Linked DNA regions of Homo sapiens. The protein of the gene in region 3 interacts with the protein of the main gene of each other region in a pairwise test. Each region holds a gene or a part of one and is shown on either strand. Other genes may lie near its edges.

Region 1 (7,026 bases), on a different chromosome or scaffold from region 3:
TGTTTCTAGTTGGATATTTGCAGTCAGAGACTGAGAATGAAAACAGAATCATCAGAACTTCAGGATAAGGTTTTTTGAACCTTAGATGAGAAGGGCCATCTCTAACAGAAGACATGAAACTCTGAGAAATAGAAAACAGGAGGCTCATCTAATTAAACTCTCAGGGCTCTGATGACAGGCACACTCCTGTTTTGCTCTGCATCTCCAATGCCTATCACACAAAGGCACTTGCTACTGGCGGGAAGGGTGACTGACTGCTCAGAAAAGGATTGAGGCGTCTTTCTCAAACATCCCATTTCTCAATGCTTATTCCAATTTCTGGAAACGGACACAGCTAAACTACTCACAGCTATACTGTATATTTTCAAAGGAAAGGTTTTTTGAGGGGATAGGTGGGAGACAGCATAGAGAGTACAAAAGTGAAAGACAGCATTTTTCAGAAGAACTCCAGCACAGCTCCTCCTGACTCATGGGAATGAATATATGTTTAGGTTGTTGAAGAGAAGGGCACCAGGATACCAGAACTGGATGAAACATCCCCTATGAGCTAATCTTTGCTATGGTCCCATGTGATGCTATTATACCCTAGAATGGGCTTACCAGTGTTCATAAATACCCTGGCCTTTTCTGGCAAATATATTTTTCTAATTTAATATTTTAATTAAATATATATTTAATGTCATATATTAAACAAATATTAAATCAAATGTTATTTATACTTATATCAATATAATATATAGACATTAATATTTCCAGTGTAACATTTTTCCTACAGATTGCCTCGTGAGGCTTGTATAGAAGTCTTACACATTTCAAAAGCATGAATCAGCCTCCCTGAATCCACTCACCATGGGAAAATTTGACAAAATTCCAGCTTTCATGATGGATTCCCATTTCTCTACCATGTTGCACCTCCTGCTAACTCAATGCTACACTGTGAGACCCTGCCCATGGGAGTTAGTTGTCCTCACACCTGCAGCAAATTTTGACTTCGTCTCTGTGCTCAGGCATATGGAAGTTCACCCAGCTGTGCTGCATATGAATATATCCATCTGCTCAGGACTCTGCTGAGATTACCTTTTCCTGCAGACGTTCAATAATAGCAGCTAGATTAGCCTCACGGTTTTCCTTAATTTGTTCCATTTTCAGGATCAGCTTTTCCTCCGCCATCTTGCTGAAGTTGTTGTTCTCCTCCAAAGCCTTCTGAAGGACTTCTCGCTCGTGTTCCCTCTTCTCTGCCAATTGTTTCAGCACCTGGGCCTCCTGAGACTGGGGAAGAAAAACATAGCCATCTTATAATTATCCAAACACAAACCTAGCAGAATAACGGCCCACCAATTGGAGGGAGCATTCTTTTCAGATGAATAGTACTCCCAGCCTTGAGCACTATTGTCAAGTCTGTACTCATCTGCATGGCTTAGAGTTTTCTATAGAATGTGGCTAGTTGGGAAATGCGGTTAGCTGAATTTTCAGCTGTGAGTATATTTCGGACTGTCTTAGAAGAAGAAGCATTTAATCCTCATTGAGGAGTTACAAATTTTTTTAAAAAAAGGCTTTGTTGCTAAGCGTTTATGCAACAGAAAATGCTATAATGAATTACAGGATGGCAATATTCAACCAAAGCCTGAGGAAAACAGTTGAGGACTGAGACAAGTTCTGATCTTCTTCCTGATCCATTGTTTTTTCATCAACTGTAGGCTAGGCCCTACAATAAGCTTTTCAATTTTCATCAATCAAATAATCAAATTCACTTTCTCCTTTTATTTCACACCCCCTTCCCCCCTCCCTATCCCCCATACACCAAAGTCTCTTTGGAGATCTGAGAACAGTGCAAACTTAGTGTCCCCTTGGCCACAGAGAGCAGAAAGTCCTTGTTTTGACCCTCTCTTGAAACCCTGTGGTTGCTCAGTGATTTAGATCCAGATGTACACCCTGCCCTGCACTTTGAGCACTGTAATTTTCTTCCAGCATCAGGAGTCTGTTTGGCTCTGTACAGTGAATGGTAATCACTGGAGCACTTGATAACAATGCAGGTGCCTGGCATCTACCTCCAAAGATTCTGATTCCAAGGTTCTTTGGTGAGGCCCAGTGATAAGCATCACTAGTGACTCAAATGCAGGTAGTCCAGTCTACCTTTTGTAAGTCATACTGGCATGGGCTTTGATGTCAGGCCTGTGTTCAAGTCTTACCTCTGTTTGTGACCCAGGATGTGTTACGTAACTTCTTTCCATATTCTTTTTATTCTCCCCATTATGCAGCTGAGAAAAGTCCCACCCAATACTGACCTATTTAGGTTTAAGACTAAATTATTACACACTCATGGCTTCTGGATAATTTCTCAGGATCAGCTGATGCCCCGAGGCAATCCTTCACAGGAGTAATTATAAGTGGGAATATCTAAACAATGGTTGATCAAAAAATAATCCTAAGTGCCCTGTTAAATACTGATTACCATTGAAAGCATTAGTGGGAAAACATTTTAGTTGATGGTAGTGGTTGTGGACATTTACTGGAAAGGTCTTTTTGTATAAACAATATGGGGCCTGGAGAAAGGAGAAACTTCTCTTCAAATAAAATTCTACAGAAATGGGAAAGTCAGACAGCCTTACACATCTTTACTGATGTGTTTATTCTCAAGTTGATCAGGAATAGGTCTGTGGCTCACTGGAGATTAGACAGAAAATCCTGGGAACCAGCCCTGCCTCTTGCTTTAACCCCATAATGGTTTCAGGACATTTTACTATTTATGTGTTTATTTTTTTTTAGATAGAGTCTCGCTCTGTCACCCAGGCAGAAGTACAGTGGCGTGATCTCTGCTCACTGTAATCTCTGCCTCTGAGGTTCAAGCGATTCTCATGTCTCAGCTTCCTGAGTAGCTGAGATTACAGGTGTGTGCTACCACACCCTGCTAATTTTTGTATTTTTAGTAGAGATGGGGTTTCGTCATGTTGGCCAGGCTAGTCTTGAACTCCTGGCTTAAGTGATCCACCCGCCTCGGCCTCCCAAAGTACTGGGATTATAGGTGTGAGCCACTGTGCTTGGCTGGTTTTAGGACATTTTTAGTGGAACCAATGCTTTCTTACTTTGTATTGGTTTCAGGAAAACCAATACAAAAATAATAAGAAAATTATAACATAAATTGAGTTCAAACTCCAATGGAGCCTTTCTGGAAGAAATATGAATAAAATATTTTCTAGCTGGTTCACTCTCCTGCCTCTAGGTGGGACTGTTGGTAAAGCATCCTACACAGACTTTGCTTATTTGCTGTTATCAGGACTACGGAATTGTTACAGGGAGAGAGGTGTGTGTGTAAATATTTAAAGTTTCTCTCTCTGGGAAAAGTCTTCATGAAATTAATTTTTTTGGTAATGGATAAGAATAGTACCTATCTCATATGGTTGTCAGGATCAAACAAAATAATGTTTGCAAGGTATTTAATGCAGTGTCTAATATCAAGTAAGTTAGTACTGAATGAGTGGTAATCATTATTATCAAAAGCAAAATTTAAGACACTTGTGACAAGGAGATGATGGCAACTGGACTTACTGGTATAACAACTCAAATGCAAAATTTTGGCAATTTCATGTGTGTGAAGTATTTGTTCAAACTTCTTTGATTATGAACAGTTAGTGGATTCAGGGATCCTGATGGTTGATGAGAGTCCAAGTCCTTCCTAACTCCCTCATCTCCACCTCATGCATGCCCACTGACTTGGGCTGTATTGATAGGAAATCTCACAGTGAAGTGAGCACCACAAAGAAATAAGAGGAGACAGCTTTGCACCTTCATTTTAGAAAATTCAATACATGTAACCTCCAGTCCAGCAAACCTTCTCAAGGAAGAAGGCTGGATTATCACAAAACAAGGGTGCAATGTGTCCAAGAATTAGGAATTGGGTTAGAGCCCTAGGTTTCTCTTGTAATGAACAGAAATCCATGGAGGATGCTCCAGGAGACAAAGTCAAACCAAACAAATCAAAATAAAGCAAAGTAAAACTTCAACATTCTCTAAGTGCCGTGCTTTAAAATCATTTTTCTATCTTAATACACTGTTAGGTAATGCTCTTCTTAGCAACTGGTACCCATCAGCCACAGCTGCTAAAGGCAGGTAGCAATGTAACATTTCTGCTCAGTGGTTAAACAATTCCTTCCTGCTCCTCCTCCCATAGATCAGTGTTTCCAACACTGCCCTAGATAGGATCCACCTGGATTTTTAATGGCCACTTTTTTCAAGTAGCCTTTCTACAGAAGCTCCTGTGGCACAGTGACATGAGCCCCAACCTGGTATTTGGAAAGCCTGGGTTTGCATCCTGCTTTGCTGAGCCTGGCCCTTTGAGATGGACTTCATGGCCAGGGGCCTTGTGCCTGCTGCTCTTCAGACAGGATCAGCTTACAGAGAGTTACTGTGAATTATTATCAAGAGGCCACTGCAACTGCCTAATGTTTCATTTTCAGATGCTCCAATTAAGTTTGGCACTTTGTTCAGTTGTGTTTTAACTTAATGTTTATATTTGTGTTCTTAATTTTCCTTTGTGAAAGAACCAAAGTCAAGAGGAAACAGCAGGGAAATAAGATTCAGACGGGAAGGCTTTGAAATTACAAGGTAATACAGCAACACCACTTTTCCATACTTCTTGCCTTGGTGGGACACATTTGATCTGCATGAACAAACTCCTGTGGTTTCCATTATGAATAATGGAGAATTCCCATTATAACCAATGCCTACTCCATTTACTGGAGTGCAACATTTGGCTCAGTTTGAAATGACTCAATTTAATGGGGTTAGTACTTTTGTTGCTATTGGGGCTAAATGAGATTACACAGCATAGGTGTCAAGTGCATTTCTTTAGCACAATTAATGGGGTGAAACAGAAACAGAAGGCAGTACAGAGTGTGGTCACGTGAGTCTGCTGCTAACTCACAGAGACCTGCCAAACTAGGCCAGGCTGTGCTTCAGGGCTGCTCACTTCTGTGGTACCTTTTCTTACACCCTGGAAGGGAATGTTATATCCACTATTAACTCACACATTTGCAGGACTTAATAATTGTCTGTGTTTCAAATATTTAAAACTTAAGTCCACACATACAAAAATACAGGATGTCAAGTCAATTATGGTGGAAAGCATTCTATCCCAAGGAAATACTTATGACTTCCTATATTAGTCTCTATTCATAAGCATTCAATATTTTTTTTTAAATTTAGAGACAGGGTCTTGCTTTGTTGCTCAGGCTGGAGTATAGTGGTGTGACCTTAGTTTACTATAGCCTCAAATTCCTGGGCTCAAGAGATCCTCTTGCCTCAGCCTCCTGCACAGCTGGGACTACAGGCGTGCAACACGACACCTGTCCAGCAGTCAATTTTTGAACAAATTATTCAGGGGCGCTAATAACCAGGGGGGCATCTACCTCAGTTCCTGAGGTCTCTGCTACCCCATTGGGGTAGAAAGGCATAACCTCGCTTCCTTTTTCACAGTGTAGCATCCAGATAGATATTGCTGCCCATAACTCCTCTAACTCATTTCTTAGGTAGAAATTGATTCTCACATGAACATAGTTTAATCTTCTAGTCAGACCCTCAAGGAAAAAAATTGGCTCTAATTCCAATGAGCAAATAGGCAGTTTAATCAATGAGAAAATAAGCAGTTAGTCCAGAAAACTGCACTAAAACATGACATGAAGTGAGTGAGGCTGTAGAATAAAAAACATGTGACATACAAAAGTGGCAGCATTTTCCTTCATTTTTGGCAGAGAAGTAAAGTTCTCACTACATGTTCAAATAGGTATTCTTACTTTATATCTTGACTGTGCAGATTAGCAGAAAGGAATTGTGATTGCGTGGACTTATGAAACGGAGGGTGGTGAAGTGAGAAAATCGCTAAAAGTTGTTAAAAATAAATTGTTCAAGGAAAAAGTATCTGGCCTTGGAGGAACACTTCTAAATAACCTGTACCTAACATAGAAGGTCACTAAAATATTAAAAGGGAAAATTAGGGCAAGACAATGATCAGCTGATATAATGCAAATGTCAAGGCAAAATATAGAACTGAGATGTTCAACGTGACGTTCCGGGAGACTAAAGAACCTTCTCGATCTTGCTATTATGGGAACTGAGGCACGTTATTGGTGAGCACCTTTTCTAGGCATAAACCTCCTCACACTGAACTCAATCATTGAAATAATTACATGAGAGGTACGTGAAGCGAAAAACAATGAGACAGGAAAGGAGACTTATTGTACATTTAGGAACACTTTAACATTTTGCAAAGAGGTTAATTACCAATTTGTATATTACTGAGTGTAAGAGTTTAATTACTATACAAATGGAGTGGAAGATAAATTTGAGTAACTAGTACATAAAACTCATTTTACTTTATGTACACAGATGAGACTTAAGACTACATTTTAGATAGCACTAATTTTCCATTTATTTCTGAAGTAAACATATTTATTTTCTTGTCACTTTTCATTATTTGGGGGATATATTACTTGCTATCCAGGACCGTTGATCAGACACTAAATCTCCTAGTACCAAAAAATGCTTTTACACAAGTAGGGTAGGTGATGTGTCTGTAATTATTGACTTTACTGCTGACAATGAAAATCATTATTGACCCATCTAAAGTCACAAATAATGTCCTGTTGAAATATGACAATTGAATATAATTATGTAAAACCAAAGAGTACAATATTCACTTTGTGTTGAAGAGCCTGAAGCATAACAGGAAATTTAAAATGATTAAAATCCTAAGACCTTTAGAATGAGCCCTTCTGCTAAAGTGTGTAATGGGTTTACTGTGGTTAGCTCCTAGGAAAAGAAACTTGGGGGTGCTCTTCTTCACCGAGAAGGTAGCACACGGAAGATTCTGTGGCCCACGTGCCATATTCTGTAAGGAGCAGAATGTTTCCTGAATGTCAAGCGGTGAATAATCCAGTACTTTGTTTCATAATCCATTGCTATACAAACCACCCCCTCTTTCCCTGGATTCCATTTTAATTGCCATCTACAATGTGAGATGCCAACAAATGG
Region 2 (7,026 bases), on a different chromosome or scaffold from region 3:
TCTTTTCTTTTTTTTTTTTTTTTCAGATGGAGTTTTGCTCTTGTTGCCCAGGCTGGAGAGCAATGGCACTATCTTGGCTCACTGCAACCTCTGCCTCCTGGGTTCAAGTGATCCTCCTGCCTCAGCCTCCCAAGTAGCTGGGATTATAGGCATGTGCCACCATGCCCGGCTAATTTTGCATTTTTAGTAGAGACAGGGTTTCTCCATGTTGGTCAGGCTGGTCTCAAACTCCCAACCTCAGGTGATCCGCCCGCCTCGGCCTCCCAAACTGCTGGGATTACAGGTGTGAGCCACTGCGCCCAGCCCACAAAAGTTTCTTTTAATGAACATTCACAAAGATAAAACATATGCGGAGGGCCATAAAACAAGTCTGAAAAAATTCCAAAGGATTGAAATGATATAGAGAATGTTATCTGACCAAAACATAATTAAATTAGAAATTGATAACAATAAAGTATCTAGTAGATCTTCAAATATTTGGAAATTAAGCAACACACTTCTAAATCCCTGGGTCAAAAAAAGAGCACATGTATAGCATCTAGCATAATGCAACCAAGAAATACTTGAAAAGACCCCTATGTTTGGGTTGAATATTTTGACTGGAGAAGATATGAGAGATCAAATAGGAAGTTCACCTTTATTCTTCACTACTGGAGCTACTTAGAAAAGCCCTAGCCCTAGAGAACATACTTTCCTCTACTGTTAATTTAAGTAAAAAGTATGTTTAGAAAGATGTTATGGAAATAATTGTCTATGGGTGCTGCCCAACAAGTAAAGTAGCAAGGCAGATCCTTCAAAAAATCAAATGGCAAGCTTCAGTCAGCATTAAAAATTTTTCAAACATAGAGATGATTTTTGGAAGGTTGTAACTTTGAAAATGTTTAAATTCACTACTTTAATTGTACTTTCAGCCAAATATTGCACATTTAAAAAATAACAGAACAGCTTCTTAAGAATTAAACTGATTTAGCTACAAAAGACTAAATAAACACATACCTTAGCTGCATTGATAAAACATGTTTGTAATTGTCTCCCCAAAACTAGAAAATTTTCTGCAGCTGATGGAAGTAATTCATTGTAAAATTCCTCTGCATCTTCTCCTGGCTCCAAGCCCACACAGCAATGGCTGAAATAAGAGCACAAGTTCGTGTTAATTAGAAGTTTATGTTGAATGCTCAAGCTTCTAGAGACACTGTGCCTTATTGAGAATTTTTAGTATGCTTCTTTTGTTACCAAGACAATAAAGAATTTTTGTTGAAAAATTAGTCTAACAACTTTCTAGAAAAGTAAACAGTGGTATGGACCATGCTTGTACTTAGGTCTGGGATTTATGTATCCTAAAAACCTACATATCAGCTCATTCAGCAAATAAAAGACACTTGGCTCACAATAAAGAGAAGCTAAGTTTTCAGTGAATTGGCTATAATCATTCTCAAAGCTATAGGATACCTTGAGAGTTTAATTTATGAAAAGCATTTGTGTTAACTAATACATTTTAGACACCTAATAGCTGAAAAATGCCCAAGTAGGATTTGTTTGCAAGGGATACATAAGGAAACCAAACACTAATTTCATACCAATTTTACCTTCCAATAGATCTACTTTTTGCAAAATACTCATTTGCATATTCCTTATATCAGAAGGACAAACGGCAAAACCTAACTCTAGTAGGAACACTTTACAATATACATTAGAGGAGAGAAAGTCACTTAGAGAAAAAGGTCCTCTTAAAATTGTACATAAAAGTCATTTCCTGTACATAAGTCAGAAGTCCCAATAATAAAAGGTTTTTCTGTAAACTAACATTCAAAAGAGCCTCAAACCCAAGAATGGTCTCTATGTGTGTACTCTAATGAACAAAAACTGCTGTTTGAGTCTTTTCAACAAAATGTATGGACACTAATAAGCAATAACAACTATGTATTGAGCATGTTAAAAATCTAAGTAATCAATGGCAGACTGGATAAAGAAAATGGTATATTTCTTTGGGGTGGTACATATACACCATGGAATACTATGCAGCCATAAAAAAGAACAAGATCATGTCCTTTGCAGCAACATGGATGGAGCTGAAGGCCATTAACCTAAGTGAACTAACACAAGAACAGAAAGCCAAACACTGCATATTCTCACTTATAAGTGAGAACAAACATTGAGTATGCAATTTACCTATAAAACAAACCTCCACATGTACCCCTGAACCTAAAATAAAAGTTAAAAAAAAACCTAAGTGGATAATATTTACATGTATCACTTTTTGTTGTTGTTGTTGTTTATTTGCACCTGGGTTCCTAAAGTTAATGGGCTAATGCTCACATGTATCAGCTTTTCTTTTCTCTTTGGTTCCTAAAGTTAATTACTTAAGAGTATCTTTTTTGATTGAGAAGATTAACAAATGAAATTATGTTTATTTGTGCATTCAGAAACATGGGAATTTCTTAAGTCTTGAATTCCACCCGAGAGCCTGGCTTAATCAATATCATCATAAACTAGCATATCGAATCAAAACAAAAACATAAGGCTTTATTTACTTAAGAAAATCAATCTTGAAAATTAAAGTATGAAAAAGAATATCACATATATTTTTCAACTGTTCTTTGTAACTGTGTGCTTTAAATTTGGCCTTTACCAAGTAACACAGTAGGATTAAGCAGCTTAGAAATCTAGCATCCAAGACAAACCCTTTCAGTGGGAATAGCTTATTAAATTCAAATGGCTTATTTAGGAAAAACAAAAAAAGAAGGCTAGGATCCAGTTAGTAAATACACACTTTCACTTATTAATCAGGAAGTAGCTTAGGCACTAAGAACATCTGGTTTATTTTACTACCTCCTTTAAAAAATGTTTATTTCTCTTCTATTAATTTCTAGCATGGCAGTAGATCAGTAAATTCTACTTCTAAATTTTATTGACAGTATTTGGGTTGCTTAATGAAATACACAGTTGATAGCTACATTGATATAGTGAAATAAAATGTTTCTTTATCAGTTCTCCTATAGTACTTGCTTGCATACTTTCATTTTAGCACTGATTTCATTCTGCTTTGTATCATATACTTACATGACTGTCACCCAATCTCTATTTTAAGTTTCTCAGGTACAGAGCCAGTGCCTTAATTTCTTCACTTCTTTAAAAATTCCTTAATCAATAAAAAGTATATTAGGCACTTGGAATTCAGTGGTGAGAAAAAAAATGATCACCATCTTCATTAAGCTTGTGGAGGAAAATTTTAGACAGTCAAATAATCTGAAGTAAAATTATGAATAATAACATATAATATGAAGGAAAAGTACAACCAAAACCTACAACAGGAGGTTGCCAATGCTTGTTAGGCAGATAAATAAAAAGCAAATGTTGAAAATCAGAATCAACTACTACATCCCTCAAGAACAGCTGACTTACTGCTTTATTTTACCTTAATATCTGTGTAAGCTGGGAAATTGTAGTCCAACCACCCTGGATTCGAGAATAATCTTGACTGAGGACCAAGAGGCAATATTGAATGAGATCATAACAATATATATCTTGTTTGATTTTCTTCAACTCTGAGCTTCCTAAAGGTGTGATGTTTATTATTTCTAAGGCAAAAGGAAATAAGATATATTTATTTTTGCTTAATACATCCAGGAGCTATTTGTATTTTTATATGTTGAATAATCACTAAAAATATATTAGAAGGAAAAATTACTGTTCTATTATAGTGTTAAGACCTCTCTGAACAAATTTAAAAGAAATGTTAAAATTGTACCAACGATGGAACCATTTTTCACTTAAAATGCTATCTAATCACAAAAAGATTTTCTTACCTTTTAACTTCAACAGTATAACAGGGACATTCTGCTCAGGGCTTTTTGCAACTTCAGCAGCTATAGATAAGATCCTTGGGTCTGTACCTGTTGGCTTCATTTCTCTTATTACCTATATTTTAACAGAATCAGAGAATAAAGGTCAAAAAGCCAGGAAATGTTCACTACCTAAATAATGTTTGAAATATAATTTCAATATAAATAAAAACAGCTTTTCTTGCCTTGTTTGAGAGGCAGAATGTAGATTTTTTCATTTCTTCCTTATAGAAAACTGGTTTTTCTAACCAGTGTAAAAGAGCTCAAGATTCCTATACCTCACATGTAACAGCTATAGCAGGTATTGTTTATTGTGCACTCACTAAGAGTCAGGAACTGTGATAGGAGCTTCACATTCTCTCTCTAATCTGCACAATAATTCTAGGATAGGAATTAACTTCCTTTAATCACACAAGAAGAACTGCAAAAAAGAGCTAACATGACAGGCCTAAGACTACTATACTTTCAAAGGTGTGCTTACAAGGTTGGCCTTTGACTGGCATCTAGAACTTAGATTTCAGGAGGGTTTCTGCCATTCTCTGGTAAGAGTGGCTCCCTGTGCCTAAAACTGTTTATGAAAAACAATGTGGTTCATGCTGAATACCCGCCTTCCTTCCAGGAGTCTTAGAATTCTGGTACATGCCAGTCGAGAGTACCTATACAGAGGGTGCCTATGTGGCCATCCTCCAATAAAAATTCTGATCACTGAGTGTCTAGTTGAGCTTCCTTGGTAGACAACACTTCAAACATGTTGTCATAGCTGGTTGCTGGAGGAATTAAGCATATCCTACGTAACTCCACTGGGAGAGAACTCAGAAGTTTGTACCTGATTTCCCCCAATATGCTTTTTCCCTTTGCTGATTTTGCTTTATTTCCCTTCACTGTAATAAATCATAGCTGTAAGTACACTATATTCTGAGTCCTGTGAGCCCTCCTAGTGAAGCACTGACCTTCAACACACTAATGCTCAGAAATGTTACATAAATATAAGATAATCAAAGATTGCTTCTAAATAGTATAGTGAATAAGGCCAGGGGCAGTGGCTCACACCTATAATCCCAGCACTTTGGGAGGCCAAGGTGGGTGAATCACTTGCGGTCAGGAGTTCAAGACCAGCCTGGCCAACATGGTGAAACCCCATTTCTACTAAGAATACAAAAAATCAGCTGGGCATGGTGGCGCGTGCCTGTAATCCCAGTTACTCAGGAGGCTGAGGCAGAATAGCTTGAACCTAGGAGGTGGAGGTTGAGTGACCTGAGATCACATCACTGCACTCCAGCCTGAGTGACAGAGCTAGACTCTGTCTCAAAATAATAATAATAATAATTAATAAATAAGTAAATAGTATATTGAATAAAATCAATTCTCCTAACATTAAAAAACAAGGTCCACATCCTAATTTGTTGCTAAAACTTTCTCTATGTAAAAAAAGTTTAAGGCTGAAGAATCGCTTGAGAATTGGTGTTCAAGACTAGCCTGGTCAACAAAGCAAGACCCTGTCTCTAAAAAAAAAAAGTTTTAAAGCATTTGAAGCTCAAAGATATCCTTATATAATAAAAGCGTATTTCCTTATTTATAGTAAAGCTAACATGTATCAACTGTTTAATATAAGCTAAGCACTATGTTAATATACTATACACTGTCTTGTGTAATCCTCACAACAGGGCTATGAAGTAGATAGAGCGTGTGATCATTTCCATACATACATATATACATATACATATATATGTTTTTGTCCACAGTTTCTGGCTCATAACTCCCATAGCCTTTGTTACAGTCTTGTTATGTTAGGGTGCTTTAGGCCTCAGAAAACAGAATCTATTTCTGACTTCCTCCTCTCCTCCTTTCACCTGCTCCTTCTCTCCAAAGCAGAACTCTAATCATCCCTGCCTTTCTCTGACCTATCTTGTCTAGCTGTAGGTCATAAGACCCCTGTTTCAGAATGGGTCTTGCCCTATATCCTGGAAGGAATGCTGAACAGAGAAGCCAAGAAGAATCTGAGCAGACAGGCCTTGCTGGGTTTCCCCACTCAGTCTGTTAGTATCAGATCATATCTTTTTTGTCCAATCACATTTCCAAAATGATTGTCCATGCTTCAGTCATGCCTATCCATTGAAATCTCCATAAAAGGCTCAAGAGGATGGGGTACAAAGAGCTACTGGATAGCTGAACATGTGGAAGTTCCTGGAGGAATTTCCTGGATATCACAGGCAGGGAGGACATGGAAGCTCTGTGCCCCTTCCCATACTTCACAGTATGCATCTCTTCATTTGTATCCTAGTATTTTTTTTTGGAGACAGGATCTCACTCCTGTTGCCCAGGCTGGAGGACAATGGTACAATTATGGCTCACTGCAGCCTAGACTTCTCAGGTTCAGGTGATTCTCCCACCTCAGCCTCCCAAGTAGCTGGGACTACACTTGCAAGCCATGACGCTCGGCTAATTTTTTGTATTTTTAGTAGAGACAGGGTTTCTCCATGTTGCCCAGGGTCTCTGTAATATCTTTATAATAAACTGGAAAACATGTTTCCCTCAGTTTTGTTAGCTCCTCTAGCAAATTAATACACCCCAAGGTGTGTATTAATAGGATTCCTCATGTGTAGCTGGTCAGTCAGAAGCACAGGTAAAACAACTTAGGGCTTGGATTGGCATCAGAAATGGGGGTCCCTCTTGCAGGACTAAGCCCTAAACCTAAGGGATCTGACCCTATCTCCAAGTAGACAGTGTCAGAATTGAATTAGATGATACCCAGCTGGTGTCCGCTGCAGAATTGATTGCTTGCTTGTTGGTGGAAGAAAACTCCACACATTTGGTCACAGAAGTCTTTTGTGTTGATTGTCATGATGTGAGAGCAAAAACTGTTTTTCCATTCATATATCTCTTATTAGGTACAATATAAATCATTAAAAGACAGGTTTGCTGAAAATACCTTAAAGAAAGCCCAGTGCAACTCCCGGCACATAGTAGTCACAAAACTTTCAAAGAGAGTGCATATAGTTATCTCATTCTCTCCAAATGGCTGCATTATGCTACATTTCCTTTTAAGAATGCAGCAAAATATATTTAAACATCACCTCTACTGGAGGTCACTCAAGCTGTATGCTATTACAAGCAACACTGCAATGAATATACACATGATCCTTTACATTTTTGCCAATCTGTTAGATGAAAATTGGTATGATTG
Region 3 (7,863 bases):
GATTTGATGGTTTTATAAATGGTAGGTTTTCCTGCACTCACACACGCTCACTCTTCTCTTGCCTGACACCATGTAAGACGTGGCTGCTTCCCCTTCCCCTGCGATTATAAGTTTCCTGAGACCACCACAGCCATGTGGAACTGTGAGTCAATTAAACCTCCTTTGTTTATAAATTACCCAGTCTCAGGTATTATCTATATAGCAGTGTGAGAATGGACTAATATAGACCCTAAGAGGAGAGGAATGCAAATTAAATTGTGCATTCTGGAAGACAGAATTTAACGGGTGTTCAGAACCCAAGGCATCAGTGAGAGTTTGCAGTCTTTTTTTAAGAGCAGGGATTCTCATCCTGGTGGAATGTCCTAATCATCTCAGGAGTGTTTGAAAATACAGACTTTTGAGGTCCCATCTACAAAGTTTCTGGTCTAGTTGACCGGGGGAAAAGCTCCCAGCTAGATTGTCAATGTCCTGCTCTGTGTATAGTTTGATGTTGTGGCTCCTTATCCTGGTGCCTGCTGCGTGATGACCCGGCCACTATCTGGCTCCCTCAGCTTCTCCCCTACCTTTTTTTCACAGCCTCACTACCTTGGATCCTTCAAGCCTTATCTGTGACTTCACCTTCTTAGCAAGGCCTTCTCTGATAGTAAAAATTGCACCCCAAACCCCAGCACTCTCTAGTCCCCTTCCCTGCATTATTTTTATCCAGCACTTATCACCTAATACACGATTTAATTTACTTATTTTGTGTTTATTGCCTGTCCCACCCACCAGAATGCAAGATTCATGAGGCAGAATTTTTGTGTATTTTGTCCCAACTCTATCCCCAGCACCTAAATCACAGGAGATGCTTAATCAATACTTGTTGAATGAATATATGAATGGATATTTTCTGCTCAGTCATTGTTTGGTAGACATTAGCTTCTGCTTACTGGTGATCTGCCAGGGCCCTTCCTGCCCATGAACACCCTCTGTGAGTCCTTCTGGATTTCAGCTTCCTCAATTGATTGCCTGATTGGATCAGGGTTTTTTTTTTTTTGGACTGATTTTTTTCCCCCCAGGTCATTTTTTGAATGAGTATGACTTGCCTGTGTCTAGGTCAGTGCCCACCCAGGGGCAATCAACAGTGATTCAGGGATTACACAGACAACACAAAAGAGTATATTGCCTGGGGCCACCCTTCAGCAAGGGCTGGAGGAGGGGCAGTTTCTCCAAGCCAACTTTGGTGCAGGATGACTGTGTAGCAAATTACCTAACCGAGCTGAGTTTCAGGAAATTGGCAGTAACAATACCAGTTTGAGACAGACTGAGAATTCTTCAGTGGTTCAAGCAAACAATGTATGGAACACACTCATAGAAGGCATTTTCACTATTAATTTATGATATAAATAAAACAAGATGAGTATGGGAAGTTATCTAATTTTAGATGACATTCAAATGTGGCTTAAAAAAAAAAAGCTTGCTGGTATGGTAGCTCACTCCCGTAGTTCCAGCTACTCGGGAGGCTAAGGTGGGAGAATCGCTTGAGGCCTCGTGTTTGAGACCAGCCTTGTCAATACAGGAAGACCTCATCTCTTAAAAATAAATAAATTAGGCCAGGTGCGGTTGTTCATGCCTGTAATCCTAGCACTTTGAGAGGCTGAGGTGGGTGGATCACAAGGTCAAGAGTTCGATACCAGCCTGGCCAACATGGTGAAACCCCGTCTCTACTAAAAATACAAAAATTAGCTGGGCAAGGTGGCACATGCTTGTAGTCCCAACTAGTAGGGAGGCTGAGGCAGGAGGATGGTTTGAACCTGGGAGGTGGATGTTGCAGTGGGCCAAGATCGTGCTGCTGCACTCCAGTCTGGGCGACACGGTGAGACTCCCTCTAAAATAATTAATAATAATAATAATAATAATTAATAAATCTAAAAGAAGTAGTAGAGGAGAAATTAAGAATTTAGAAACTTGTTGCTTGAGGTGGCTTTGGATTCTTTTTCTCCACCCTTTAATGTTTTTAAAATGTTACTCTCACTTCACATTGATTTCTAGTTGGCAGGGGCTTCTGTACATAACTTCCAAAGTGATATTTAAGAGGAATAAATGCAAAGATCTGCACAGTTTCCAAAAACAAATTGCAAAATACAGGTTGGAGAAGATATGGTTTTATAGCTGTATATATGTTAAAGACTTAAAAAAGATTTGGGGGTAATTTTTGCTTGTTTTTAGTTGGCAATAACATGATATTTATGAACGGTATGGGGTGGTAGAAAAATAATGTGATATCAAACTGAATTTTGAAATATCTTCATTAGGATGCAGAAAATTGTACTCCTCTACTCCTTCCTTTATACTTGGAATATTGTATTCAGTTCTAGGTGCCACATTTTAAGAGACACTGGAGAATGTTTAGATAAATGCGTATGGAGACGAATGAGATGTGAATAAAAAGTGGGTGGAGAAGGCACACATTGTGACTGCTGACTTCAAATGTTTACAAGGCTGCATATGGGGGGGAACCATGCTGTTCTGTATTAAACAATGTTAGTACTAGGTTCAGACTCACTGGACACATTCATACGCATTGCATTCATATTTACAATAATGATTTAAGGTGCTATTATTATCATTTTCTCCTTTTAGAATGGAGCAAACTCATACTTGGAGCAGTTTTGTGCTTTTCTAAGGTCACACAATTAGGAAGTTATAAGCCCAGGATTTGACCAACTTCTTTGGAGTCTAAGTCCAGTGGTGTTTCTACCAATACTGTAGCTACTTACCAAATGTATACAGAGACAGATTTTAGTTGAACATAGAAACTAGCAGGACTGTTTAAAAATGAAAACTGTTGTGAGGTCATGAATGGTTTCCTATCACTTGGAGTTCAAACATATGCTGGATAGCTACATTGCAAGGATCTAGCATATATATATTTACTTTTATAATAAAATATTAAAAACAAATGCTAATCATAGAGCCAAAGAAACTCCAGAAGTAAAGCCTCATGACTATAAGTGATTGAGCTAAGTTCATTCAGTAGTTATTGGAAAACGTAGCATCCAAATTTCATTCTCTGAATTTATAGTTTAATGTTTTTTCCATTATAGCAGTTACCTCTTATCTAACACCTAGGTAATACAATGTGGAACCAGAAGTATGTAAAGAGGAAGGGCAGGGATATTTTGTGAATTATTATAATGGATTGCTTGGCATGCTCTTGTTTTACTAGGATAAGCAAAGAATGTGAATGGTAGTTGGAGAGAGTTTAAAATGATAAGCAGAGAATGCCACATAGTAGAGAAGGGAAAAACAGAATACCACGGAAGGCTAAAAAAGGCTGGGACTGTGGACTTCCCTGTATTTTCTTTTCGTTGAGTAGATGCTCAACATCTATTTGTTGGGATGGAAAATTATTTCAACGCTTCAGCAAACAGTTAAAGAGAACCTTTTTTGTGCTGAGCACTGTGCTATGTTCTGGGGAGCAAAAAAAATGAACTAGACAAAATCCCTGTCCTTTTAAGGAACACACAGTCTAGGAAGAAAAGGCCACCAAGCAAAGCAACAGGAAAAAAGCAAGTATTAAAGATTATCATAGGGAATACTGTAGATAGACGATTTTATGAAAGCAGAGAGAAAAAGAGTATTTAATTCATTGTAAATGTGTGGGGTAAGGATACAGATGTGGTGAAAGGAGATGATGTCAGGGAAGATTCCAAGGAGGAAGGGATGCATTATCTTCATTATCTTGAAGGACAATAGGAGTTCAACTGGTTAAATGAGGGATGGATTTCAGGTGGGGGAAAACTACAAGGGCACAAAGACAAAGTCTGTTGAATTTGTGTGATACGTAGATATATTAGGAGTTGAAGCTGGAGCCAAGGAGGTCAATAGATCAGATTTTAAATGGCTTTGTAAACCATGGTAATGAGTTTGAACCTGATTCAACCAGGTGGAGAGACTTTGAATGATTTTAAAGAGGGACGTTTCATGCTTAGCTCTGTCTTTTTGGAGCATTCTCTCTGGCAGTTATATGGAACTGAAGCAGCAGTGAAGTTAAAGGCTTGACCTAGAGTGGCAAAGAGGTGGAAGTCATGGAGACAGACTGATATTCACAGAATTAAGAGGAAGAATTAATCCACGGGATTTTAAGTCAGAAAACTTTAGTGGAGAGAAATTTGGTTGCTTAGTTGTTGGAATAGGAAGATTTTATCAACGGAATTAGGTGATACTGAAGTGAGTGGCTGAGTGAATAATATGGAAGTCTTGAAATTGGGACCACACAGCTGCTCTGATCTGGTGTGAATTTGCTGATGACTCTTTTGAACTGAATTCAGGAAATGACATACAAATGATTTGCGCAATAAAATGAAAACAAGGACTCTTAAGTCAGTATACTTGGAGAAAAATAACTAGGTTGGTAAAAATGGGGAAGTAGCCATTATCAGGGAGCCCCATTGTGGATTAATTTTGGACTGTCCAGTGGAAAGATCCTCAAAGCAAAACAAATGCCCTGAATCCAGCCCTTCCTCACCGCAACCCTTTCCCTTTCATCTGCCTTCATCCTTCAGCCACACCACCGCTTGGCAGTGAGTACTTGGGAGCAGCTCTTGGAGACTTTGTACTCGAACCTTCGAACTCCAGCATGAGGCCAGAGGAAATAAATGACCTGCCAGGGTGTCAAGTAACGGACCCTCTCTTAAGCCCAGACTTCTGACTCCAGATCTAGGTACCCTTCCACTCTCCAAGACTGCCTCCCGCCTGGGGAGCCTGGGCCTCGGCTAGGGGTGGGGACGGCAGGGTCCGTCCGGAGCGCCAGAGTCCCACTCGCGCCCAGCCCTCAGCCCCAGGCCCGGTTGGACGCCCCGCCCCGCCCCGCCTCCTTCCTCCTTCCCGCGCCGGGCGGGTTGCTGTACCGCCGTCACCCGGGCGCGCGCGGGGTCGCGCGGACGCGGCTCGGGCCGCGGGTGCCGAGAGGTCGCCGGGCCACCCGCACCCCCGCTCCCCGCCTGACGCACGGAGGGGCCGGGACGCGATTTGCCGCGAGTGACTGGAGCCGCAGCCGTCGCCGCTGCTGCCGCCGCCGCCCGGGCCCGCTCCGCCCCCAGCCCGCCTTCCTCCCGCCGCGCCCTCCGCCTCCGCCCGCACCTCGCTAGCGTTCCCCTGTCTTCCCCAACGCCCCGGAGCCGCCGGCCGCTAGCGTCAGCGCCAGCCAGGTGAGTGTGGCCGCCGCTCGGCCCGGGCGGGAGAAGCGCGCAGGCCCCGCGGCCGGGTGGCCGGCTTGGGCCGGTGCAGTCGGCGGCGGCGGCGGTAGCGGGCCCGGCTTTCTTCCCCTGCGCGGGCCGCGGGGCGGAGGGGCTACGCAGTGAAGGAGGGGCGCCCCCGCCCCGCCACCGCCTCTGCTCCCAACGCCCCGACCGCCCCCACCGCCTTGCCGCCACAGACAAAGCGCCGGAGGTGGGAGCCCTGCGGGCCGCCTTTGCCTCCGCGCCGTCTGCCGGGTGCGGCCGCGGCCCGCAGAGACCGGGCCGCGCGCTTTTCCGTTCCTGAGCGCCCTTGTTCATTTCTGGGTGAAAGGGACCCGAATTGTGCAACAGGTTTGGGCGTTAGTCCTTATTTTCCAGCGGGTCTCTTTTGCCAGCGTGCAGGAACCAGATGTGGCTCCCTGCTCTCGGGCGAGTCCCGCGTCCAGCGCCCGCGACTGGCTCCTTTGTGTGACCGGTGACCGGCCCTGTCGGGTGGGTGGAGGACACGGGCTCGAGGCCCCAGGGCTGCGCCGAGGCTCCTGGACGCCTCCTCAGGTCGCGGGGCTTGGCTTCCACGGGCCTGCCAGAGGTTAACATCCCTCCAGCGTTTGGGAGAGTCACAAAGGGGAGGAGAGAGAGGGTTGGCCAGGGTCTGTGGTTGTGTTTATTTTTCTATTTTAGGTAGACTCATATTAGAAAAGAGCCGCAGTCTGACCAGCTCTTGAGGGTACGGGTGGGATTTCACCCTGGGATGCACGGTTTGGACTTGGCTGTTGCTCTGACAGCCCCCGTGGTTTTCTTGGTGCTTTGACATCTTTCTCTTACACACAGACATCGCGGGAGAAGTTGGGAGTGCTGCCGAGGGAGTAACTAGATAGCAGCTGTTTGACAGGTCGTCTCTTACTTCACGTTTTGCTTGTGTCAAGCATGCCCACTATGTATCCCAGCATAGCTTGGCAAACCGTCAAATTTAAATTGCCACTCAAAATCCTAATCCTTATACATACCTACATACACAGACACACATATATCTATATACTTTTTCTGTTTTGGCTGGCTAAATCTTATTAATGTGAGAATTTTTCCTCCCAAGGAAGAATGCATAATAAGGTACAATTTATCTTTGGTTACATACCTTGGTTAAGTTATGCCAATACCTAGCTGGTTTCATTGGTATGCTATTTTAGTTTAACAATACTAATTCCTTTAGCTTTGAGCAGTAAAATACGTCTTTGTTCTAGGACCAGGAAGCTTTTATACGTAATACTTTGCCCCATGACTAAATACGTGAAAAAATTCCCCAAGGACCTAGAAAGCATTTCACAACTCTATAGGCTGTTTTTATGTTCCAAATTCCAGGAAATCGTTTTGTTGAATATTTATTCAAACATTCTGGACTAAATTTAACCTTAAAAATTGGGCCCACTCTAGTTTTTCCCCAGCATTAGAAAAATGAATTGATTGCATTTACCAAACATTTTAGCCCCTGTGAATAAGAATTGAATGGAATAATTGATGTAAGAGATTAGGAGCTAGTGATGGACTAGGAATCTGACAACAGAATGCAGAATGTAGAAAGTTGTAAGTAGAGGTCACAAAGTTGCATCTACTTGGGTTTTAATTCATTGCTAGGCATTTAATGACATTTTAAACAGGTAATCTACTAATGATATATCTGAAAATGAAATGTCCAATAATTAAGAAAACAAAGTATTGCATTTTGACCTTTTTAAAAAATGTATTTTTATAAGGACTTGTTGAAGCTTTTCCACTCTCTAAAAATGAACTTGGTATTAATGACATTTCTTTTGAAAAAATGAAATTGTACCAAACTAATCCGATTTTTAGAAAGTTTCTCTGTTATAGTAGTTTTACTTTACTAAAAATACCATTCATCTGTATAGTAGCTAACTTCAAAGATCTTTTAAAGCTGTTACAAGCAACATGAGCAACCTCTTGAGGAAAGTAGAATATTTACTAATAAAAAGTAGCAAGCAGAGAAGTGAGCCATGATTGGACCACTGCATTCCATCCTGGGTGACAGCCAGACTTTGTCTCAAAAGAAAAAAAAGCAGAGACTTAAATTTTTATAATAGTTTTCTTTGAGATATAATTCATATGCCATAGAATTCACTTTTTTAAAGTATGCAATTCAGTAGTTTTAATATATTCACAAAATTATGCAAATGTCGGCACTAATCCAAGAACGTTATTACCCTAAAAAGAACCTTGTACCTGGTAGCTTTTGTTACTATTCCCCCTTCCCCATATTTGACAACCACTAATTTACTTTATGTCTCTATGGATTTGCCTATTTTGGACATTGCATGTGAATAGAATCATAATATGTGGCCTTTAGTGTCTTTCACTTAACATAATGCTTTCAGGGTTTATTCATATTATACCATGTATCAATATTTCATTCCTTTTATGGCAGAATATTATTTTGTTATATGGCTATGCCACATTTTGTTTATCCAATCTTCAACTGATGGGCATTTGGGTTGTTTCTACTTTTTGGCCATAATAAATAATGTTGTGGATACTCATTTACAAGTTTTTGTATGGTATATATGCTTTCAATTTTCTTGGATGTATACCTAGATGTGTAATTGCTGGGTTATATGGTAATTCTGTTTAC
Region 4 (7,026 bases), on a different chromosome or scaffold from region 3:
AGTCCAACTGGCTGATCAGTTTTTCTGTCAGAATCTAAGAACCTTAACCTTAAAATAATCTCAACTTATTTCTCAAGCACCATTATATGTGTGTATATTATATTTAAATGTACCAATATATTTATAGCACTAGAAAAATATGTATCTTTTAATGCATTGAGTTACTAGACAGAAGTATTAAAAAGGCAAAAATTCCTCTTTAAGGAAATAGCTTACATCCTATAAGTGCTCTTACAGGTAATGAAAAAACTGTGTCTGCAATTTGTTCCCTAATATGTCATAAACCAAAAATAGGCTCTTGGGAGAAAGTAATATCTACTCAACATAGCTGGTATTTAAAGAACTTAAATACTGAATTTCAGTACTGTCTCTGTCATAAAACATTGTATTTCCTGGGGCAAGTAACACCTTAACAATGTTTTATAAAAAGCATCAGCAGTTAGCATATGGGTATGAAAACACTTTGCCATTGAATTTCTCATAGATGGTATTAAAAAGTGTCCATTCATGACTATACAACTTTTAAAACCCTAGACAAATAAAAATCCACATGCACTCACTACAAATAAAATCTACACTCTCATCAGACAAAATCTACATTCTCAATACAACCCCAACTGCAACGGCCAATAAATTTACACAAATAAAAATATAATCCAACTTGCTAAACAGGACCCAAACGTATTATCTCGTGAGACACCAGTTATGATAAATTTTGGACATTCTATTTCATTATTCTGTAGTTTTGTTTGTTTGTTTTTGAGATGGAGTCTCGCTCTGTCGCCCACGCTGGAGTGCAGTGGTGCGATCTCGGCTCACTGCAAGCTCCGCCTCCCAGGTTCCAGCGATTCTCCTGCTTCAGCCTCCCGAGTAGCTGGGACTACAGGCGCCCACCATCACACCCAGCTAATTTTTTAAAATATTTTTAGTAGAGACGGGGTTTAACTGTGTTAGCCAGGATGGTCTCTATCTCCTGACCTCGTGATCCGCCCGCCTTGGCCTCCCAAAGTGCTGAGATTACAGGTGTGAGCCACCGTGCCTGGCCTGTTTGTTTGTTTTTAGAGATGGAGTCTTGCTTTGTTGCCCAGGCTAGAGTGTAGTGGCTATTTACAGACACAATCATAGTGCACTGCAGCCTCTAATACCTGACCTCCGGCAATCCTCCTGCCTCAGCCTCCCAAGTAGTTGGGACTACAGGTGAACAACACCTCGCAAAGTTCTGTTTTTTGTTTTTACACTTTGTATTTGCTTTCTTACAATATTCTATTCAAAACTTTGGTCACTAGCCCAACTCCTTTTTGAGGAACACATTTAGAAAACAATGTCAAAAGCTTTATGGATATACAATTAAGGAAACACAGCATTACATAACTATATTTAGGCAAGGGCAGTTTCACCCACTGTTTACTGAGTAAGAGTGAATAAGGATGGTCTCTCTCCATTAACACAATGCATGGCTCCTGCTAGCATTTGATAAATTTGAACTATTATTACTTGAAAGTGCAACTGTTCAGCTGGAGCAAAATACAGGCAATACAACTTACTGGACATTTCATCTGAGACGAGTAGATCTGGATCTGCTCCCATCTTCATATTTGGTATTCCCTCAGCCCATCTCTGTATGGAGGTGAGGTGGCTTTCATTCAAATATGTGCCCCTGTCAGACATACACTGGGTCATGCCACCACCAGGGCTTCAGTGGAGGAAGTCACGGTGAGCCTGAAGGCCTGATATCACCTACCAAGAGCCTCAGGGAACCCAGCCAGCAAAGCAGCAGCGGCCTTGCTCTTATGACATAAAACAGTTTTTGGAGAGTGCCCAGAACCAGGGTGACAGAAAACTCTGTGAGGGTTTCAATAAGGTGCTGAAACAGTGCAGACTTGCAAACAGATTGGTCTAATCAGAAAGTTCGAATTGGAGAAATGGAAAATCAGCTCTCATAACCAAGTGATTTAGCACAAAAATACAATTGATAGTGAAGGTATAAAGTGTAATCATCAGGTAAACCTCTCCTCTCTCATAGCGTCCCTGCTTCAGGACTGCAATGGAAAAGGAAATTCTTACTGTGTAGAATTTCATTAAGATGGCTGGGTAGATGTTTGTGTGGCACCCTTGAACTAGCCGTTATGATTTTATTCTTTGTTGAGTTAATTAGAATAAAGTGATTTTCCTCAAAAAACAAACAAACAAATATGTGCCCTTGTCAGACTGTTCCATCGTGATACCCCCACGATAAACCATGCCTGTTAAAACATATGGTTCCGTGATTCACCAACAACAGAAAACAGATGCATTCAAGGAACTTGTGAGGAAGCACAAACTCAAACCCCACTGCTGATAAATTCATTACAAAAGATCCACTGAGAAAGTATGGAAGGTAGGTGAAGAATGTGCAATCCACCTACTCATCTAGATAATCTAAAACAGATCCTTAAATCAGCCTAGAGATCTAAGTACTCGGATCACATTATTTTGCAGGCAAGAGAAATGCTTTTACGGAATGTTTTGATGTTATGTCACCGTCTTACACAAAAAGCCAATAAGGAGTTTTACTAACACACAAAGTAAAACTCGACACCCAGCCCTTTGAAACGCATGCTGGAAAGTCTTTGGGAATCCAAAGCAGAAATGATCTCTTTTGTCGTATGGTCACTGACCCATGTAACTGATTATATTTCTCTCTTAATTGGCTACTCAAAAGCAAAGCCAAATTTGTGGCCCTCTGCACTTAAGACTTCAGTCCAAGTGCTCTGTGTACACAGCTCATTCCTGTTTCCATCTTAATTTTCCCTCAGTCCTGCATTCCTCACCCACTTATCTGTTATGTTACCAACAGTATGTCGCACGTATCTTTGTAAGTCATTACAAACCCTTTCTGGAACAAGATGTGGAATAATGGAATAAGTAAATGATATGTTCCACTGAAAAAAATTATAGCACAATAAGAAAACATTTTCTTCGATTAATAAACATTTTCTATGTTCAATTTCTAATGGCATTTTCTTTTATGTGCTCCAAAGTACCTTCTAAAGGAAAAATGAAAGTGCTTAAAATTAGAAAATTCTAATTTTAAGAATTTAAATTTCCTCTGTACAACAGAGGAACTACAAAAATAAAACTTTCACTATGTATTTTTAACTGCAAAGCACACAGAAAATTATAAATATACCCCTATGTGAAAATCCCCCAAAAGCGATTTTTAATTTTAGCATACAGACCAAATCACCATAAATTCAATTACAGTTGTGTATTTATTTTGAATGGGAACTGAACAGACTAGCTTCAAATGTGGTTCATAAGGTCTTTGTACAATTCCTCCTGAGTTGTTCTGTGCCTAGCATAGAGGATGCTGCCAAACCATTCCTTAGGGTGAAACAGCAGAGAATTTAGAGCCCTCAAAACTCTTGTTACATTCCTGCTTCAGAGATTTCAGCAATCTGCTCACTGTTACTGGGGGAAAATTAAAAAGCTTAATACTCTCTCAGTGTGTAATATTTTACGCATTCATGAACACATACTTATTCTAACTTCTGACTTTTAACCACATTTAATTAATTGATCATAATAATGGTATTTGGCCCTCTTAATGACCATTGCCAAGAGAGCTATGCTACCAGAAACAAATTAAAATGTTCCACTAGGGCCGGGCACGGTAGCTCACACCTGTAATCCCAGCACTTTGGGAGGCCAAGGCAGGTGGATCACCTGAGGTCAGAAATTCGAGACCAGCCTGGCCAACATGGTGAAACCCCGTCTCTACTAAAAATAAAAAAATTAGCTCAGCATGGTGGCGCGTGCCTGTTAACACCAGCTACTTGGGAAGCTGAGGCAGGAGAATCACTTGAACCCAGGAGGCAGAGGTTGTAGTAAGCCAAGATCGCACTATTGCACTCCAGCCTGGGCAACAAGGCTGAAACTCAGTCTCACTCCAGCAAAAAAAAAAATTAGCCGGACGTGGTGGCAGGAGCCCATATTCCCAGCTACTCAGGTGGCTGAGGCACAAGAATCGCTTGAACCGGGGAGGTGGAAGTTGCAGTGAGTAGAGATCGTGCCACCACACTCCAGCCTGGGTGACAGAGCAAGACTCTGTTCTCAAAAAAAAAAAAAAAAAAAAAAGGTTATATTATAAATAAAAATTGCACTTCCTGCCGGGCACGGTGGCTCACGCCTGTAATCGCAGCACTTTGGGAGGCCGAGGCGGGTGGATCACGAGGTCAGGAGTTCGAGATCAGCCTGGCCAATATGGTGAAACCCCGTCTCTACTAAAAATACAAAAAAAATTAGCTGGGTATGGTGGTTAACTACTCGGGAGGCTGAGGCAGAAGAATCCTTGAACCCAGGAAGCAGAGGTTGCAGTGAGCCAAGATCGCGCCACTGCACTCCAGCCTGGGCAACAGAGCAAGACTCCGTCTCAAAAAGAAAAAAAGAAAAGTAAAAAAAAAAAATCACACTTCCTATCCCACTGACAGTAACTTCATTGAAAACAGGAATTTCACAGGAAACTTCAAAACAGCACCATAAAAGTATAATGTTTTCCTAAAGCATTTTAGGAGCTTTATCCAAACATCAAAGAGATAAACATAAGTTAAATAATATTAAGTGGGATAACTGTTATTTCACATGTTTACATATTGTAACAATAGTCCAGATCATTTAAACTCACTTCAGCCATGTGAAACAACACACATGATGTTTCTACAGTGCTCTATGAAAGAAGTGTACATTTAATAAGATTTTCAAGATGTTTGGCCTGTACTATGAAACTTCTTTTTATAGAGACAGGGTATCACTCTGTCACTCAGGCTGTAGTGCAGTGGCTTGATCACAGCTCACTGCAGCCTGGAACTCCTAGGCTCAAGCGATTCTCCCACTTTGGCCTCCCAAAGCACTGGTATTATAGGCATGAGCCACTGCACCAGCCTGAAACTCTTGGTTTTAGTGTGATCACTTTTTTTTTTTTTTTTTTGAGATAGAGTCTCACTCTGTTGCCCAAGCTGGAGTGCAGTGGCACAATCTCGGCTCATTGCAATTTCCGCCTCCCGGGATCAAGAGATTCTTGTGCCTCAGACTCCCGAGTAGCTGAGATCACAGGCGCACATCACCATGCCTGGCTAAGTTTTTTGCATTTTAGTAGAGACGGAGTTTTGCCATCTTGATCCAGGCTGGTCTCAAACTCCTGGCCTTAAGTGATCTGCCCACCTCAGCCTCCCAAAGTGTTGGGATTACAGGTGTGAGCCACCGCACCCAGCCTATGGTGTGATAACTTTACTGATGGGCTAAGAAGCCACTCACTTGGTACCATTTCTATTCTGAGTCACAGGTGTTAGGTTTACACAGGTATTTCCTACATTTGAGGGATAGGTCATCTCTGCTAGAGATGTTTCCTCTGCAGCCAATAAAAACCCACATGCCAGAAATTAAGCTCACACAGTCAAGACTGAAATTCTATGTCTCTAGCCAAAGACTCACATAAGTAAACAGAATTTTAGTTCTATATGTAGACATCACAATGAGTAAGTACTGATATCATTTTTTTTTTTTTTGAGATGGAGTCTCGCTCTGTCGCTCAGGCTGGAGTGCAGTGGCACAATCTCGGCTCACTGCAAGCTCCGCCTCCCGGGTTCACGCCATTCTCCTGCCTCAGCCTCCTGAGTAACTGAGACTACAGGCGCCTGCAACCATGCCCGGCTAATTTTTTGTATTTTTATTAGAGATGGGGTTTTACCATGTTAGCCAGGATGGTCTGGATCTCGTGACCTCATGATCCACCCGCCTCAGCTTCCCAAAGTGCTGGGATTACAGGCGTGAGCCACCGTGTGCGGCTGATAACATTTTTTTCACTGAAAACCAGCAACAAAAAATCAAAGAAATCAATGAGTTATTCTTATCAAATCAGTTAAGTACTCATTAAACACTTGTGTGCTCAATTGGGGTTGAGAAAGCAAAGAGAGAAATGAATGCAGAATTCCTGTTTACAAATTAGCCAGGTCAGACATCCTTATAGAAAGAAACAACTAGGAAATGAGTATACATTCACGTCAAGCATCTTTTTTTTTTTTTTTTTTTTGAGACGGAGTCTGGCTCTGTCGCCCAGGCTGGAGTGCAGTGGCGCCATCTCGGCTCACTGCAAGTTCCACCTCCCAGGTTCACGCCATTCTCCTGCCTCAGCCTCCCGAGTAGCTGGGACTACAGGCGCCTGCCACCATGCCCAGCTAATTTTTTGTATTTTTAGTAGAGACAGGGTTTCACCGTGTTAGCCAGGATGGTCTTGATCTCCTGACCTCGTGATCCGCCTGCCTCAGCCTCCCAAAGTACTGGGATTACAGGCGTGAGCCACTGCGCCCGGCTATCTTTTTTTTTTTTTTGTAGAGATGCAGTCTTGCTATTTTGCCCAGGCTGGTCTCCAACCCCTGACCTCAAGCAATCCTCCCACTTTGGCCTCCCAAAGTGCGAGGATTACAGGCGTGAGCCACCATTTCAAACATCTAATAAGCAGAAAAAATTAAAATACAAGATAGCAGTAATTAGCTGGGCGTGGTGGCGCGCGCCTATCTATGGTCAGTCCCAGCTACTCAGAAGGCTGAGGCACACAAATCGCTTGAATCCAGGAGGCAGAGGTTGCAGTGGCCAAGATCATGCCACTGCACTCCAGCCCAGTCACAGATCAAGACTCCGTCTTAAAAAAAAAAAAAAGAAAAGAAAAGAAAAGAAAAAAGCAAATAATCAAGCACTACACTGAAAACATTTATCCTTATCAGCTACATAGCAGCCTGTGTGTAAGAGTTACATAAAATTCCATTTTAGGGCCGGGTGCAGTGGCTCATGTTTGTAATCCCAACACTTTGGGAGGCCGAGGCTAGAGAATCACTTGAGGCCAGGGGTTGGAGAGCACCCTGGGAAACATACAAGGATTCCATCTCTACAAAAAAATTTAGCCCAAGTGTGGTGGCTCACACCTGTAATCCCAGCACTTTGGAATGCCGAGGAGGGCGGATCACGAGGTCAGGAGATTGAGACCATCCTGGC

What was found.
Region 1: the proteins of SESTD1 (region 3) and STMN2 interact in binary tests that used the Homo sapiens proteins (3 or more experiments, as listed by UniProt).
Region 2: the proteins of SESTD1 (region 3) and IQCB1 interact in binary tests that used the Homo sapiens proteins (3 or more experiments, as listed by UniProt).
Region 4: the proteins of SESTD1 (region 3) and RABGEF1 interact in binary tests that used the Homo sapiens proteins (3 or more experiments, as listed by UniProt).

The regions. Positions count from the first base shown.
Region 1 is NC_000008.11:79,649,114-79,656,139, reverse strand, and holds part of STMN2 (stathmin-2), read right to left. Parts: intron 1,270-7,026; coding exon 1,078-1,269; intron 1-1,077. UniProt on the Homo sapiens protein: Regulator of microtubule stability. When phosphorylated by MAPK8, stabilizes microtubules and consequently controls neurite length in cortical neurons.
Region 2 is NC_000003.12:121,825,055-121,832,080, forward strand, and holds part of IQCB1 (IQ calmodulin-binding motif-containing protein 1), read right to left. Parts: intron 3,919-7,026; 5' UTR 3,907-3,918; coding exon 3,807-3,906; intron 3,579-3,806; coding exon 3,416-3,578; intron 1,127-3,415; coding exon 997-1,126; intron 1-996. UniProt on the Homo sapiens protein: Involved in ciliogenesis. The function in an early step in cilia formation depends on its association with CEP290/NPHP6.
Region 3 is NC_000002.12:179,261,828-179,269,690, reverse strand, and holds the start of SESTD1 (SEC14 domain and spectrin repeat-containing protein 1), read left to right. Parts: upstream 1-4,858; 5' UTR 4,859-5,192; intron 5,193-7,863. UniProt on the Homo sapiens protein: May act as the primary docking protein directing membrane turnover and assembly of the transient receptor potential channels TRPC4 and TRPC5.
Region 4 is NC_000007.14:66,743,709-66,750,734, reverse strand, and holds part of RABGEF1 (rab5 GDP/GTP exchange factor), read right to left. Parts: intron 1-7,026. UniProt on the Homo sapiens protein: Rab effector protein acting as linker between gamma-adaptin, RAB4A or RAB5A. Involved in endocytic membrane fusion and membrane trafficking of recycling endosomes. Stimulates nucleotide exchange on RAB5A. Can act as a ubiquitin ligase.